2 linked regions of the Homo sapiens genome follow. The protein of the gene in region 1 purifies or fractionates together with the protein of each later gene. This does not show direct contact. Each region holds a gene or a part of one and is shown on either strand. Other genes may lie near its edges.

The links.
Region 2: the proteins of UCK2 (region 1) and DCAF6 purify together in Homo sapiens (affinity purification with mass spectrometry; one large-scale study listed by BioGRID and IntAct). This does not show direct contact.

Annotation. Positions count from the first base shown.
Region 1 is NC_000001.11:165,833,903-165,837,726, reverse strand, and holds part of UCK2 (uridine-cytidine kinase 2), read right to left. Parts: intron 1-3,824. UniProt on the Homo sapiens protein: Phosphorylates uridine and cytidine to uridine monophosphate and cytidine monophosphate. Does not phosphorylate deoxyribonucleosides or purine ribonucleosides. Can use ATP or GTP as a phosphate donor.
Region 2 is NC_000001.11:168,047,891-168,051,714, forward strand, and holds part of DCAF6 (DDB1- and CUL4-associated factor 6), read left to right. Parts: intron 1-3,001; coding exon 3,002-3,043; intron 3,044-3,824. UniProt on the Homo sapiens protein: Ligand-dependent coactivator of nuclear receptors. Enhance transcriptional activity of the nuclear receptors NR3C1 and AR. May function as a substrate receptor for CUL4-DDB1 E3 ubiquitin-protein ligase complex.

The sequences.
Region 1 (3,824 bases):
TTTTTGGACACTTGTTAGCTTCAGGCAATAGTGAGGTAAAACAAAGTCCCTGATCCTGAGAGCTCAGTCTAGAGAAGATAGACTAAACAAGCAAGGACCACACAGGGCAAGGGAAAAAAATTCTGTAACTGAGGTCTGTTTAGGATGCTTTGGCAACATAGAAGAGGAGGCCCCAAAAAGAGCAAAAGAGCAACACCTGCAAAGGCTTAAAAGTGACAGTAAGCATACTGAAGGGTCCCAGGACCTTCAGGAAATCTAACTGGTATCCAGTTGAGATGAATGTTAGCAAACGGCAGGGGATGTCAGTCTTTCAGAACCCCACCAAAGAAAGCTTACAAATGACTACCACTTACACAGGTTCAGATTCAAGAAGTACTTTGTGTGACCAGTGGTAACAATTACAGGATACTCAAGGCTAGTTACAGAACTGTCAAAATGTAAGGGCTTGTAAGGACCCTCTTCTGTAGATGAATATACAGATACTTAATAAGTAAGTGGCAACAGTGGGCTGGAACACAAGGGCTGTGGTTTGAAAGTGTCCTCCAAAGTTCACGTGTTGAAAACTTGATGCCCAATGTGGCAGTGTTGGGAAGTGGGGCCTGATGGGAGGTGTTTGCATCTTGGAGGCACCACCATCATGAACTGGATTAATGCCATTATCGTGGGAGCAGATTCGTTATGACAGGGGTGGGTTCCTTATAAAAGGAACCTCTTGTTTGAAACTTTTGTGCACGAGGACAGGCACTTCCCTCCCCCTCCTCTCCTCCTGCCCTTCTGCCTTCCAGGACGGGATGACCATGACACAGCAAAAAGGCCAGGTGTCAGGCACTCAATCTTGGACTTCTTAGCCTCCAGAACTGTAAGAAATAAATTTCTGTTCATTATCAGGTATTCTGCTATAGCAGTACAAAACAGACTAAGACACCAAGCTACCTAAATCAGTTGTCTTCAAACTAGGGTACATGAAAACTTCCTGAGCCACATGAAAGCAAGCATACTTTTTCACAATCAGGCTTCTCCCACTTTACAAAATAAAGGCCCATCACCCCTCCACTCTGAATCCATGCAAAAAGGTGATCTAAAATACTCGAGCTGATACTGGAAGATGAATGACTTAATGACTGAATAACAATTCCTTTTACAAGTCTGGAGGTTTCCAGTTTTCCTGCTTTCTACAAAATTAGAGGAGATGAATGGCAAGCTAGTTGATTCAAAAAATCCACTGTATTTTGACATATAATTTTAAAGGTAAAAACTGAGTCTAAGTGACCTTCATATAACAATATTCTGTCCATTTCCATCTACTTATTTATGTCAACAGGGTTCCTTAAAGCTTAGATCTATACAAATGAAAAATCTTATTCTAGTATTAAATAGTAATTATCCACAGAATCATCAAATAATTGGGGGTGGAAGGCTCTATCTCATCAAGATGTTTTCTTCAAAAAAATGTATAACATATCCATTTGGTTGTTTTTTTTGTTTTGTTTTTTGTTTTGAGACGGAGTCTTGCTCTTGTCGCCCAGGCTGGAGTGTAGTGGTGCAATCTCAGCTCACTGCAACCTCTGCTTCCTGGGTTCAAGTGATTCTCCTGCCTCAGCCTCCGGAGTAGCTGGGATTACAGGCACCAGCCACCATGCCCAGCTAATTTTTGTATTTTAGTAGAGACGGGGTTTCCCCATGTTGGCCAGGCTGGTCTTGAACTCCTGACCTTAGGTAATCTGCCTGCCTAGGCCTCTCAAAGTGCTAGGATTACAGGCATGAGCCACCGCGCCCGGCAGTATCCATTTGTTTTGATGAATTTTATACTAATAAGTACAGTAGTAATGCAATCGAAAAGAAATAAATACTTAGATTCATGAGAACAGGAAATAAAATTTTAATGTATACTTCTGTCACGTGTGATAGAACGACCAATAAAATATTTTCAAGCATAAAAATAAATGAAATTAAATTAATATTTTGCAGGGGAAGTGGAACTGAAATATGATTGAGGAAAAAAGAAAAATAAACATTTCTGACTCAAATAAGAGCTTGTTCATCTACATGTTTTAAAATGTATGACAATAGGTCAAATTATTATAGATTTAGAGCCCATCAGATACATTTAAAAGAATAATGAAACAATTGTTGTTTTTAAGTGTATATTTACAATATATCAGAAATCACTTCCTTTTCAACTCTTTATTTATAATGAAAAAAACTGATGTCAAAAATATGTGATGGGGCCCAGTACAGTGGCTCTTGCCTGTAGTCCCAGCACCTTGGGAGCCCAAGACAGGACGACCGCTTGAGGCCAGGAGTTCATGCCAGCCTGGGCAACATAGTGAGACACAGTCTCTGAAATAATAATAATAATAATAATAACTAATTTTAAAAATACATATTTTTACAACATATAAAAATATATATATTATATGTGCAAAATGGGATGAAGAATTCTCCAGAATTCTCTTAGCGGTTATGAATACAAAAATGTCTTTTAGACCATAGTCCAAAATCAGCACTGTTATCAGCCCATTCTATCACAAGCTTTCTCTAGACAGCCTAGGAGACTAGAAGCCTGCGAAGGGCAAAGACAGTGCTCATCTCCACTCCCAGGGAAAAGCAATCCCAGAAACACAGAACTTTGGACTTCTAGAGGACAGGCAAGGGAAAGCAGAGCATGCTAGCTGAGATGACAAAACAGCCCTTGCTCCCTGCTAGTCAGCCAAAAAAAAGGTAAAAATGTCAGACCAAATAGCATACTTATGGGCTGAATAAAGAAATAAAGAAGCACAACTCTACAACCCACACAAAATTGTTATGTTTCTGCCATGTACGTACCAGGCAAAATTCTTACCAAACACTACATGGGACAGGAAGAAAAAGTACTGCCTGCTGGTCACCTGTCCCATAGGGTACTGAAGGTTAAGTGTAGGCATTCACAGAAATACTGACACTTTTCCTGTAGTTTCACAGGGAGAAACCAAGTAAAAACAACTGCTTTAAAAAAAACAAAAAAAGAAAGAAAGAAACCCATGTTATGGAAAGAGTATTGCCAATAGCGAGTTGGCAAAGCAAACTGAATTTTTCAGAGTTGTCACCTTCTGTCATTGTTCAAAATTCTCAGGCATACATTTAGAACCACTGCCCCCTCATCCAATCAAATTATGGCTTATGAGGCCTGAAAGCCTAATGCTGGAGGGCTTTATATGGTTCTTTATATTTTTCAGGTTATTCTATTAAATTGTCTACTAATTGCACTTTTTTTGTTTTTTCTGATATAGGGTCTTGCTCTGTTGCCCAGGTTGGATTGCAATGGTGGGACTAAGGCTCACTCCAGCCTCAACCTCCCAAGGCTCAGGCAATCCTCCCACTTGAGTCTCCCAAGTAGCTGGGACTACAGGATGAAAATTTTCTAGCTCGTTTTAAGGAAAAGCCATAGCATAACTGGAGGATGGGAATATCATGATTTAGTAAGTACTACAAAATGATGACTTTCCTCTACTTGGATCTTTTTAGAGGTAACTTTTTCAAATATGATAATCATTAAATAAAAATTCAGAAGACTAAACTTAGAACAAAACCTTCAGTCTTGAATGACCACCAAAACTAACACCACCAAGGTCATCCAAGACTCACCAAGTATTAAACAAGATTTTTAAAAATAAAACGTCTTTCAATCTTCAGTCACAAATAAAAAATATTTTAGTATCAAAAGATTTTATACCATTAAAGAAATTATGTTTCTAAATGTTTCCTTTTTCTCATTTTTTATTCCTATTTTGTATGTCATAATTATATATGGGTTATACTTATATATTTTATATATATGATGAAAA
Region 2 (3,824 bases), 2.2 Mb from region 1:
TTGGCACCATCCTGATTTAATCTTGAACAACTGTAAAAAAGTATACTTTTAATATTTCTGCACCTTTCTAAGGGCTCTTCATCATTGACACTCCTGCCAGTTTATCTTACTTCTCAATTTAGCTGACTTTTATTCTAAAGAGAGAAAGTTTAAGAGATTTTGCTTCTTAAGAACATGAAAAGAATCACTTACCAGCTTGTAATTAGTCCTATGATTTTGGAGAGTTTCTGTTTCCCAAGAGACTAAGGGTTGTGAAGCTCTGTTGTAACAATCATACCATTTGGTTCCTAGAGTCCAAGGATACATTGCACACATGGATGAAATGCCCACCTAAAAGGATGTATGTCTTAAAGTTCCCTCCATGCTGCCATTTGCAAAGCCCAGTCAATATTAGTTTAGCTGGGGTAGAGAAGTGGTCCTAAAATTAAATATTATACAAGTGTATACTTAATTTGATCTGTACTTTATATGAAGAACTATATAGTGGACCTCATCAGTTTTTGTTCCAAATTTAATTTTTAAAAGGAAACTTTAAAAGGCTTTATAGCTAAGTCATTTCTGACAAATTTACTGAAAATATCAGAACAGTTCCTTGCAATACAGAGTAATGATTTTTAAAAAAATATTTACATTCTTATAATTTGGTTAAATAAATGACCCAGGTTTTCACTTTTGGGCTGAGATCAAGCATGAGAAGGAAATGTCTTAGAAAATGAAGACCTTAACAACTAACATAGATATTTTTAAATGGAATGCTCTTCTCATTAACTACAGCAAGTCTATGTAAATGTAACTGGGAGTCTATAGCAGAGCAGCAGACTTACTCCTAAAGAGCCATATAGTAAATATTTTGGCTTTGTTGGCCAGGAGACAAAATGGAGACCATTATGGTAGGTACTTATATGACCATTTAAAATATTAACATTTAAAAATGTAAAAACTATTCTTAGCCTAAGGTTCATTTCAAAAATCGGCATTTGGCGGAGATCTAGCCCAAGAGCCATAGCTTGCAAATACCTGCTCTATAGTAATCAGTGTTATAGAGAGAAATCAAACTATAGTCTGTGGTAAAATGCCTCTACTGGCAAAAATCCAGACTTTGAAACAATGAAATAATATGAATCTCCACATATTTGGGTTCCCTTTAACTTTGCGTAAGGCAAGAACATGGAACAGTAAATGGGAAATAAATTGAAAAAAGACAGAAAGAAATGTTTGTTCTCTAATCATGGTGTTTAAAAAAATAAAATTAGTCCTAATGTCAAAAATAAGTCTGACTTAGGAAAAAAGCAAAACAAAGCAAAAAAATAGTATGTGTATCTTTTAGTGATTTTATATACTGTATTTATTTCATTTTGTTTTATTTTTTTGAGACAGGGTCTTGCCCTGTTGCCCAGGCTGGAGTGCAGTGGTATGATCATAGCTCACTGCAACCTCATACTCCTGGGCTCAAGCGATCTTCCTCCCTCAGTCTCCCAAGTAGCTGGGATTACAGGTGCATGTTGCTGCACTCTGCTAATTTGTTGTTGTTGTTGTTGTTGTTTTTTTTTTTTTTTTTTTTTAGAAGAGACAGTCTCACTATGTTGACCAGGCTGGTCTTGAACTCCTGGCCTCAAGCCTCAGCCTCCCAAAGTGCTGGGGGACTATAGGCGTGAGCCACCGCGCCTGGCCATATACTGGGTTAAGAAACGTAAATATATGCCCTTGGAATGAAAAGAGTGTGGTTGAGATCTCTGTTTAGATAATCTGCATATAATTTTTTTTTTTTTTTTTTTTTTTTTTGGAGACGGAGTCTCGCTCCCTCACCCAGGCTGGAGTGCAGTGGGGCAATCTTGGCTCACTGCAAGCTCTGCCTCCCAGGTTCACGCCATTCTCCTGCCTCAGCCTCCCAAGTAGCTGGGACTACAGGCGCCTGCCACCACGCCCAGCTAATTTTTTGTATTTTTAGTAGATACGGGGTTTCACCGTGTTAGCCAGGATGATCTCGATCTCCTGACCTCGTGATCCGCCTGCCTCAGCCTCCCAAAGTGCTGGGATTACCGGCATGAGCCACCGCACCCAGGCTGTATAATTTTTTTTTTTTTTTACAATGCCAAATCTGTTGTAAGTGATTTGACGGCCTGATTGGTAGCTCTTACTGTTTCTAAACTCAAGAGAAAACCTAAATTACTCTCTGAAAAAAAAAAACAAGCATCTAAGAAAGCTTCCTGAATAAGTCCTCACATAGTCTTGAATAGTTTTTAATTATAGCCTCAGTTAGGATGATCTAACAATTTTTTCCCTAAAGAGTGATTTATCCTATATTGCCCTTTAATAACTTTTAAAGTGTTATTTTCATAGAAATTTGGTTCCATATACCTACTCTGGACCATGGAGCATAGCCCTCACTTTTAAAGCCAAAATTCCTTGTACTGTAAATTTGGCAGCATTTATTCAGTCATCATTGTAACCATGATTTCCTTATTTCTCATTATTGCAGTTTACTCTTTATTAAAGAAAATTGCAGAGAGAAAAGATGTACTCAAAGAGAAAGAACTGGACTCCTAGGGAGTTAAAAGCCCTGTTATTCTTTGCTCATTTGTTATATAGTCTTGTGGTTAGGCCAAGTGAATTAGCTTAGGGCTTAATTATTTATTTTCCAAAGAGCTCCTCAGCTTTGAGGAGCATGTACGTGTTCCAGAGGATGGTATTCATTATAAGCCAGTGCAGTTTCCCATACTGTGACAGGATTGGGTTCTGATTTATTTAAAAGATAAAAGGGATTAAGTGCAATGTCTTCCTTCTATTCTAGCTTCAATGAGTGTTTCTGTTTCCTTAATTTCTTCATATACATTTAGTTGACTGACATATTCCTTGCTTAATGCCCGAAGTCACAAAGGGAAACAAAAGTTTTTTTTTAAATTGAGATGATTGATGATAAAAAGGGTGTCCTTAATGCTTTAAATATTTGGTTCTTTGAAGTCTTTGTAAGTGATTTCAGTTATTGTGTTCCCTTCACTAGATTTAATATCAGAGGAACAACAATAGGTGATAGAATAATGAGGTAATTCAGTATGTTCCTTCATAATTTTTTTTTTATGATGGATTTGCCAGGTCTTCTTTTGCCACAGCTAACCACCTTTCCTATTAACAGTTAATACTCCCTTTGGACTTACTGAATTCTAAGTGCTAAGCATTGTAAAGCAGGTCGCTTTCCACAAACTATATTTAGCTGCATGCACTGCATGGGGATAGAATGAAAAGAAATTTCCTGTGTGCAGACTGATGTTCACTTCAAATATGTCATATGGCAAAGTAACTATAATCTGAAATGATGTACTTTAAGTATCAGTTACTCTTTTTGGATATTTTGTTGAAGAATGCAATTTATGTTTTTTAAATTTGATTGGGATAACAATTACCAACTTTTTGTTATTCGTATATGCTCCTTTTCCTTGAGCTCAATAACTAAAAATGTACTTGAATCTAAATCTGTGTATAGGTTTCTGATTTTTGCAAGAAAGTTGTTTCCTTATAAATAGTTTAGAAATAGTGTCACATATCAAGATGATATATAAGCCTCAAGCACTTCTCTATTTGGGACATATTTTTGAGTAGATCTTTAAAGTGAACCTCAATGACATCAGTCACCTACTGAAAACCTGTTTTGCTGACAAAATCAACCTTGTACTTAACTCTAGAGGCATATATCTGTTATTTACCATCAGTTTCTAAAACAGTTGAACATGAAACATATAGCAACAATCAGAAATGTAAAGTTTGTAGAGTTCCTAATGAAAAATACAGAAGTCATGAAATAAGCCAAAAAATATAATAGATGTATG